3 separate regions of the Homo sapiens genome follow, and regions 1 and 3 are each reported to be linked to region 2. Evidence: microRNA targets listed by miRTarBase, many of them from high-throughput screens and not tested one by one. Region 2 holds a microRNA gene; each other region holds the end of a gene's coding sequence.
The links. Region 2 holds the annotated microRNA hsa-miR-513a-5p (UUCACAGGGAGGUGUCAU, at 1,807-1,824, opposite strand). A microRNA usually pairs through its seed, bases 2 to 8, with sites in the 3' UTR of a target mRNA and lowers its output. Matches are read on the target gene's strand: a 7mer-m8 pairs with bases 2 to 8, a 7mer-A1 pairs with bases 2 to 7 and ends in A, and an 8mer does both.

Region 1 (3,000 bases), not on the chromosome of region 2:
AATTCCCATGACAGTCAATGATGCATTTGATTTTCTGTAAACTTTTCTTGGGCTTCTGAAAGATTGGATAACTAGTATTATATCTGAGATAGTATTATAACCAAGAAAGAACAACAGTGGACTGTGGTTGCTGTTGTTTGTGGATTTTTTTTTTTTTTTTGCAAATTTTCCTGGTTGACCCCCTCTTTTTCGAATATTTGTTCCTTGCACAGTACACTCTTCCATAACTCCCATACCCGATTCCTGGCCACAAGAATGAGCTTATAACCTGGATTAGTCTAATCATACTACCCATTTATACTATCATTGGTCCATGGGTTGGTTATATAACCCAAACTTTTTAGAATTCATTCTAGGATTTCTCAATTTAGAGTTGGAGAAGCAACCTAGCTCTGGGCTCAGGATACAGCAAGGTGAAAGGACAGTGGAAGGCCATTTTCCCCACCACTTGGAAAAAACCGATCTGCAATGAGAGAGAATGGAGCAAACAGAGACAGACTAAAATTAGGGGTGGACACAGAATCCTGAGGGCACTGAAACTTGATTCCAATACCTGAAGCCCTGTTTCCTGCCATTTTCTTTTATTCTGTGAGCTCTTCTCTAGCATCTTTTCTCACTACAGGAACTAAGAAATCCCTTTTGGCTTAAGCCATTTAGAATTGGGTTCTAATATTTGCGACCAAAATTCTAACATAGAATATGAGATTATCTAGTCTCACCCATCATTTTACAGAAAACAGAGATTTACTTGCCCAAGGGAACACATTACAACAACTTAATTCACCTTTCTTTACTCCTCAATCTATTAGTATGCTCTCCTTCAAGAAAAAGTTGAAACTTTGAGAATTTGTGAGGTTCATGTATTTAATAAACCCTGCCACGTTCATAATTGGCCCCAAGTAGACTTGTGAATAACTGGGTAAACCCATGTCAGTTCTGAATTGTGAATATAACCTTTCAGAACTTGCTACAGCTCCGTAGCAGAGTGTAGCTGCATTGATTATTGTTCTACAGTAGAAATATTATTTATAGAACTAAGGCCAAAATAATACAATTTCCACATTCCCTCCAAGAGTTGAGTTTATGGCACCTTGAATAATCGTAGTTGAGTGTGATAATTAAAACAAAAACATTAGGTCAGAACATTTTAGAAGTGTCTTAGAAGACATCAATACAAAAATAAATTGACAAGAGTACCCAACGATAGTGCACTAAATTCATAATAGTGCAAAGAATATACAGTGAAAACCTAAAAAATCCTGCATGTCCAAATAAACTATAATACACTTAGATACTAAGAAGTACCACAGTAGGTTAGACTATTAGTCCTATTTCTTCTCCTTGTCACAGCTTCATACACCTTTTCATTCTGCCCTTTAACTCTGAAGAGCTTCCCACTGTAGGCAGTCAGCGCCCCATCTAACACTGGGCTTGCTCAGAACTGCCTTGACAAATGTCAAGTTGGAGGGTCTAAAGATGCTTGCATGGTTTGTCTTGTCTTCTTGTACTCTGTCTAGGTGGGAATCTGCATAAGTTAAAATGAAAAATAGTTTCCTGTTTTCTGAATAGCCAGTATTTGTACATGCTGTAAAATTCAAAAGGTACAAAATGATATACAATGAAAAGTCAGCACCTTCTTAATTCTGATCCTCAACTACCCACTTCCCCTCCCCAGAGGATGCCTATTACAGTTTCTTGTGTTACCTTCCAGAGAAACATTTAGAAGAAAAGCCCAAACAATATTTTTCATAGAGTCAGAACTGAGACCAGATAGAAGAGCCTTCTGAATCAAGCTGGAAAAGTCCTTTCTGAGAAGACTCCAACTCTTATTTGAGAATATATATTATTTGTAAGTTGAGAGATCAGCTCCCACAGGGAGACCTAAACAGGATTGACTATAGGCAAAAAAAAAAAAAAAAAAAAAAAAAATCACCTGTTATATAGAACTATCTCATTTAAAATCCCTGCAAATGTACTGTTTCCAAAACACACTTATGATTACTTTAGGGTATACCTAAAAAATTAGGTAAGTGATTGCTTCTTAGCTTAAAGCACATAGCAGATAAGCACACAGTTGTGATTTCAATTTGTGCTGTCCTTAGATCATTAGTTTCTCTCCTTTTAGAGACAGATCATTTAAGACCAAACACTGGAGGAATATGTTAATTTTCATCTATTCATAGAAATATACATTTTAATTGGCTTGGCAATAACATTGAATTTAAAAACTTGAGCTGATATGGTAATATATCTTTAATTTTGATTTGTATACAGATTGACTGTATTTGATACTTTTATCTGCAGAAATATTTAAATATTTTTCTTCTAAAAGGGTAATTGGAATGAGTAAATCCATTAATCAAATATTAACATTTATTTAAAAAACTTTATTTTGCTTTAAAAAAACAATTATTCAATTCATGAAGATTAACCAAAATACAAACCCCATCAAAGTTTATTACAATAATCTTTCATAAAATAGCATTAAAAAAAGTTAATATTTTAATGTAAAAATCACAATGTAAAAATAAAAACTTTAGTTTTAGTGACTAAAATAAAAGCAGATAAATAATCTTCTTCACAGGGAAAAAATACTTGAGGGAAAAAACAATGGTATAACATGTGTAAAGCAGGAAATTTAAATATCAGCTTAGTTCCTCATTGCCAACATGGCATTTATATCCCAGATGAGATTTCGTAATTGATCCATAATTTGTTTCAGCTGTTGATTCTTCTGTTTGAGTTTCTGTAGAAACAAAAGAATTTATCAAAAATGTTTCAGGAAATATAGACCATGAAGTTAGAAGATTAAAATATCATAAGTTAGGATTATAATGATACAGACAGAAATTAAGCTAAATAACCCTATAAGGCAGATGGTCTCAACCCTCTTCTGGCCTTAAATATTTGCTGACAGGGATCCTGAATTCTAAAAATCCAGCCTGCAGAGGTCTATGGCCCCAGCCCCGGCCCCAGGCCCTGCTTACTCTTCCACTTCCA
Region 2 (3,268 bases):
TGTCTCAGCCCAAAATCTCCTTAAGCTGATAAGCAACTTCGGCAAAGTCTCAGGATACAAAATCAATGTACAAAAATCACAAGCATTCTTATACAAAAAAGTATTTCACTGAAAGAAAAACCATAAATACCAGTGAATATAGTACTCTTTTTGAGAAATCCTAAAAGAGATAGTACTCTTTTTGAGAAATCCTAAAAGAGATATAACTAAATTCTCTGTCTTTGTTTCATTTTACGATATCACTTATTTAAGTACACATGAATTCTCTCTAATACAGTTTTAGAAATTATATGCTAAAAAGAGTTATCACTTTGGAAATTTCTACACACATACAGTATTTCCAACGGACAGAATTTTTTTTTATTATTCAGAATGTCCCCCCGCCTCCAATGAAAAAAGTTCTATATATTCTATTAGTACAATTGTTTTAATATTGAAAAAGATACTTCAACTGATTTTTTTTACTTCCAGACATTAATGGTCTTATACATATTCATCCATTCTGAACCTAAAAAAACAAACATAAACTAAAATCCTGCCTGTAACCATATAGTAATTGTTTTTTTATAGTTTCTCTCTTTCGGTGTATATGCTGTAACCTCTATTTCCGTTGGAATCAAAATTGTATTAATCAATCACTTACTATTTATAACATTTTTAAACACATTTCCCCAATATAAGTAGCTTATTTATATATAACCTACTTCTAAAAAATGCATACTAGTTTCATGCTGCAGATGGCCTCACACCATCTGGCACTTGTCTTACTCTTGTGCACGTGCGTATTTGCCTCTTTCTCTCTCCATTAGGTTGAGTTAAGAAGTGTCAACACAAGAAAATGGGGCCGGGCATGGTGGTTCACGCCTGTAATCCCAGCAATTTGGGAGGGTGAGGTGGGTGGATCACGAGGTCAGCAGTTCGACACCAGTCTGACCAACGTGGTGAAACCTGGTCTCTACTAAAAATACAAAAATTAGCCAGGTGTGTTGGCGCACGCCTGTAATCCCAGCTACTTGGGAGGCTGAGGCAGAAGAATCGCTTGAACCCGGGAGACAGAGGTTGCAGTGAGCTGAGATGGCGCCACTGCACTCCAGCCTGTGTGAAAGAGTAAGAAAGACTCCATCTCAAAAAAAAAAAAGACAGAAAATGGGGAGAGAAGACTAGGAGATATCTCTTGAGTAACAACTCTATCATACGCTTCCATTGTTCAAACATAAAAAACAGGGAAAAAAGATAATGGAAAAGGGTGAAATATTCTTGGGTGGACTACGCTTAACCCTCCATAAATTGGTGACTGAAGGCTTTGAAAGGTATTTTAAAAGTCTATGAGAAAATGTTTTAGTCTTTGACAGAAAATGGACACTGTGGATCAGCAATGAAGGGACCTGAGAGGCAGGAGAGTCTTTTGGGAGCGCTAAAGGAGAATCCTTGCAAATGATGACTTCTTGATAAGTGAGAAAAGTTTAGGAATCTGGAATATAGCCTTCCAGCTGACGAAGAATGGCTGTGGCCTCTATCCAATGTATTTCTTATTTGAGCCAAGCCTCATTTGGCAAAAATAGATAAATTCTTAAGGAACCGAAGTGCATGCGTTTTCTCAGGAGTCCACAGTTCCTATGTATAGTCATTTAGAAGGCACAAAAAGTTCCCTGAAGTAGCCCAGCACTGAAGAGTGGGTGCACAGGATGCAAAACAGGCATCACCATGCTCGCAGCTACACCCCCATCCTCAGGGACACCACATATGCAGTGCATGCTGTACATTACCCTTCTCAGAAAGGTGAAATTTATATTTTAGTTCACATAAATGACACCTCCCTGTGAAAGGCACTGCACACTGAATGGCTGAATGTGGCATCCAAGAACAAATGCTCCCTATTCATGCCGTTTTTTTTCAAGTCCCTATAGGTGTATGCCTTGGCATGGCCACCAAGATTTATGCCAAGGGACAATGCAACTTGTAGCCCCCGGCGCTCCCCTTTTCATCCTGCCCCAAGTGAGATTTTAACATGCAGATTTTTGTTTTGTTTTTGTTTTTGTTTTCAGATGAAGTCTGGCTCTGTCGCCCAGACTGGCATGCATTGGTGTGATCTCGGCTCACTGCAACCTCCCCCTTCTGTGTCTAAGCACTTCTCCTGCCTCAGCCTCCCAAGTAGCTGGGATTAAAGGCACATACCACCGCGAATGGCTAATTAACACACAAATTTTAGGCTTAGCCAGAATATAACATTTCACTTCATCTCTTCCCCAGAGATGTGTAATCCTTGTCTGGATTATCCCATTAGTTTTCGCGTTAATTTGCTTGTCTCATTAAAAATCCTCAATATCAGGCCAGGTGCAGTGGGTCACACATATAATCTCATCACTCTGGTAGGCTGAGGCTGGTGGATCATCAGAGGTCAGGATTTTGAGACCAGCCTGGACAACGTGGTGAAATTCCATCTCTACTACAAATACAAAAAATTAGCCGGGTGTGGTGGTGGGCAACTGTAACCGCAGCTGCTGAGGCAGGAGAATCACTTGAACCCGGGAGGTGGAGGTTGCAGTGAGCCGAGATCATGCCACTGAATCACTTGAACCCGGGAGGTGGAGGTTGCAGTGAGCCGAGATCATGCCACTGCACCCCAGCCTGGGCAACAGAGTTAGTTAGACTCTTTCTCAAAAAAAAAAAACAAAAAAAAACTATATATATATATATGTGTGTGTGTGTGTGTGTGTGTGTGTGTGTGTGTGTGTGTGTGTGATGTACACAAATAATCATGAGCTGAGGCAAATTAAAAGACCTGGATTCTTCTAGCTCTGGCCCTTGATAGCATGTAGAAGTCAGACCACATGATCGTCAAGACCGAGTGTTTCTATGTACCATTCTCATTCATCTACTAAACATAACCCCTGAAAGACAGACAGAGAAGCACATAGCTCAGTGTTAGTGCTGAGTCACGGTCAAGGAGCCATAGTTCACTGAACAGAATGATTCTAAATATCTCAAGCATTTTACTGCATTTTTTGAATTCCATGAAAAGCAACCAAAGTTAGATTCTACAGAAATATTTATATATATCAATCAATCAATCAATCAATTTAGCTTTTCTCTTAAGTATTTGGGCCCTTGAGCTATCTCCCCAAAAAGTTCTCAAGGGGAAAAAAATACACAGACACAATACTCCCTCCTTCAAACACCAGTACAGGTACTACTTCTCTTCCTCTGCATCACCCACCCCTCAGTAGCTTCAAAGGAGTCTTTCCAGCAACCTGGCACATCATAGCAG
Region 3 (3,000 bases), not on the chromosome of region 2:
AGCGAGATCAGCTCCTCCTACAAAGGAAGTGTCCTTAATTCACCTTCTCCCAGGGCTTTCTCACTGGAGCTGTCTTATCAAGGTTTGTGTCTGATGAGGAAGCAGAGGAGTCCTAGGGTTGCAGAATCAGGGGCCACTAGAGCAGGGATGCTCCTAGCCCACTACCCAAGAAACAGGCAGCACCCGCTAGTGAGGGCTCTGGCACCAGTGCTTCCCAACCTCACGTCTTTTCTTTCTTGTGGGTCTCTTTGGAAATGCAGGTTCCAGATTGCTTCTTGGAAATTGCCAGCTTGACGTTACAGGAGTTCTTCAGGGCTGTCTCCGCAGGGAGAGACTCAGATCCTTCCTGGAAGAAACCCATTTATAAAATTATTTCGAAACTGGACAGTGACATCCCAGAGATATTCAAATCTTCCAGCTATCCCCAGTAGCTGTTTCGGGGTTAAGATCCCACAACGTGAGGAGTGACTGGCTAGGGTTTCCTGGGTTTGTCTTAAAGGGCAATTTAGCTGTAGTCATATAAAAAGGGCACAAGGAAATCTCCTCTATCAAAACAGGTACTATTACCATTTTGATCATTTATTTCCCTTTCCAGAATCATCAGAAATTTAACTATAAAATGTACTAACTATATTGGTGTATTGGTAGTATATTGTAAAAGGAACACAAGTTTCCAATCAGAAGACTTGAAGCTCAACTCCATTGTTTCCAGGTGTTGTGACCCTGGGAACTTCCTGGTATCTCTGTATCTGTAAAATGAGGTTGTTAAGGATTAAAGGACAGTATGTCCTATGCAATGTCATTCACACACAAATGTCAGTTTTTTGAGCCCCTCTTTCAGATAAGGTTATCTTATTTGGGGTTTTTACAAATTGCTGTTTTTAGTCACCTAATTATAAAGCGCCATCTATTTGCTAGATACTTTCACATACTTTAAGCTTTTCACCCTGAAAAGTAGTTATTATCATCATTTAAAAGATGACCAAACAGAAGCTTTAGAACTGCAAGGTAACTCGCCAAAGCCTATGAGGCTAGGACATCTGGGTTGATAGGGACAGTCAGGAGCCTGGAGGAACCAAGACTTTCTGATGCCCAACTGCATGCTGGACCCATCTCCTGCAGCTAACTCAGGATCTCAAGCAGGACCCCACCCCTAGTAAGCATCCAGCGCTGACAGGGCACCGTCACCTGACAACTCCTGCCCAGCACTTAGGAGCACTTCACCGCCCAAGATTTCTGCTGATCATTTCAGCAAACTCAAGACAAACTTTATGCAGGACTTGAGTGTTGCTGTTTATTCACATTTGTCTGCTGGAAGAGTTTATCAGCTGGATAATGCAAATAGTCTCCAGCTGACCATTGCAATTGGTGCCCCAACCTCATATATGCAGAAGAAGCTGAACTTCAGACTGTGAAAGGTAGAAAGGGCCTTAGGAGATCATCTGGCCCATGCTGCTTAAATTGGGAAGGAAGAACCGCAGTCCAGACAGGAGGCTTGCACAGGCTGTGCACAGCCTTGCAGATGATAAATGGCATAACTGGGACAAATGCAGCATCACACAGAAATGGAAATTCTCCCACTCCATAACAAAATTACAGTCCATGGCTGACCTTCCACTGATGAAGGAATTCATGAAATCAACATTTCCCCCTGCTGCTGGCCCAGCACAATTGTGACCCACTCTTGAGTATATAGGCAAGGCATGTACAAAGCTGAGTAACTGCATCTGTCTTCTAAGCTAGTCAGGATCAAGTCTTTGTAAGCACTGCCAAAGGTACGCCGGGTGGGGTGGGGTGGGGGTAATACACAGCTCGGGCTTTGTAGTCCTGATAAGGGGTGTCTGTGAGTTCATTAGCTTCTTTCCTGTCTATATAAAACAAGTTTCATATTCGGCTACTCAACTTCCATAATTTTTCTGGTGGGGTGTTGCTGGAGCAGATGAGATAAAATCCCTAAACTATTACTAGAACTATCAGCATAAAAAGTATGAAAGATGAATTTTCCTTTGAATTTTCTCTTCAAACAGCTGAAAGGAAAAACAAAACAGACTTAGCCCAAACCCATCTTTACAGGCTAAAGGTTAAGTGCCCTCCAGTACATCCAATTGCACTCAGAAGATCTTTGCCCTATTTTCACAAAAATGAAGGAATCTGCCAAACCTAAGTTTTAAACACAGGCAAGCATGGAGTGCTCTGAGCAAGGGCAATCAGTTTTCTGTGTCCGGACATAGTAGAAGAACCCTCTATCCAGAGTGACATTACATACCTAAGTTAGACATACAGGGGAAACAAGTTCACATGACTGTCCAATAGAGAGCAGCCCTTCTTCTGTCCCAAACCTGAAATTCATTAGTGTGTGTTTAAAGACTGAGCCAAGTCACCTCCAGGGCAGTGAACCTTGTCTCAGGGACCAATGAGATGAAATGTACAAGCTCAAATTGAAAACATTTGTGTACTGCAGTCTTTCCAGGAAGTGTTCTCTAACCACTGAGCTAAACACAGAAGAATGTATAAATATGTATGCTCTGCCAACAGAAGAATTCTATTTGATTATAATTTTCTGTTTCTATCAAGTGCGTATCCCTCTCTGTTGGAAACACATGGAGTGTAAGCTGAGTGGGTTATTATTTTAGCAATCATACTTTGCCAAAGATCTGGTCATTTTTTCCACTAAGGTATATGAGGGCACTATTCTTTTATTTTTTTGAGACAGGGTCTCACTCTCTCACTCAGGCTGGAGCACAGTGCCACGATCACAGTAGCCTTGATCTCCCAGGTTCAAGTGATACTCCCACCTCTGCCTCTCGAGTAGCTAGGACTACAGGCACATGTCACCATGCCCAGCTAAGTTTTTAAAATTTTTCTGTAGCAATGGGGTTCTCACTATGTTGCCCAGGCTGGTCTCGAACTGCTGGGCTCAAGCAATTCTCCCACCTCAGCCTCCCAAAGTGCTAGAATTATAGGCATGAGCCACTGTGCCCGGCCTTGGGTGCTACTCTC

Region 1: miRTarBase lists MED30 as a target of hsa-miR-513a-5p. Seed matches in the 3' UTR shown: 8mer at 2,578-2,585.
Region 3: miRTarBase lists PROX2 as a target of hsa-miR-513a-5p. Seed matches in the 3' UTR shown: 7mer-A1 at 1,410-1,416.

What each region holds. Positions count from the first base shown.
Region 1 is chr8:117,539,629-117,542,628 of GRCh38, reverse strand. MED30 (mediator complex subunit 30) reads right to left here. Exons shown (of 4, transcript NM_080651.4): 4 at 2,367-2,746. The coding sequence ends at 2,651. Among named protein-coding and RNA genes, the nearest start is that of MED30, 20 kb to the right of the region's middle.
Region 2 is chrX:147,224,094-147,227,361 of GRCh38, forward strand. MIR513A2 (microRNA 513a-2) reads right to left here and starts at 1,859; the gene lies at 1,733-1,859. All of the region lies in intron 2 of LOC105373347 (periphilin-1), which reads left to right.
Region 3 is chr14:74,852,563-74,855,562 of GRCh38, reverse strand. PROX2 (prospero homeobox 2) reads left to right here. Exons shown (of 6, transcript NM_001243007.2): 6 at 261-2,530. The coding sequence ends at 431. Among named protein-coding and RNA genes, the nearest start is that of PROX2, 22 kb to the left of the region's middle. RefSeq lists an enhancer at 1-882.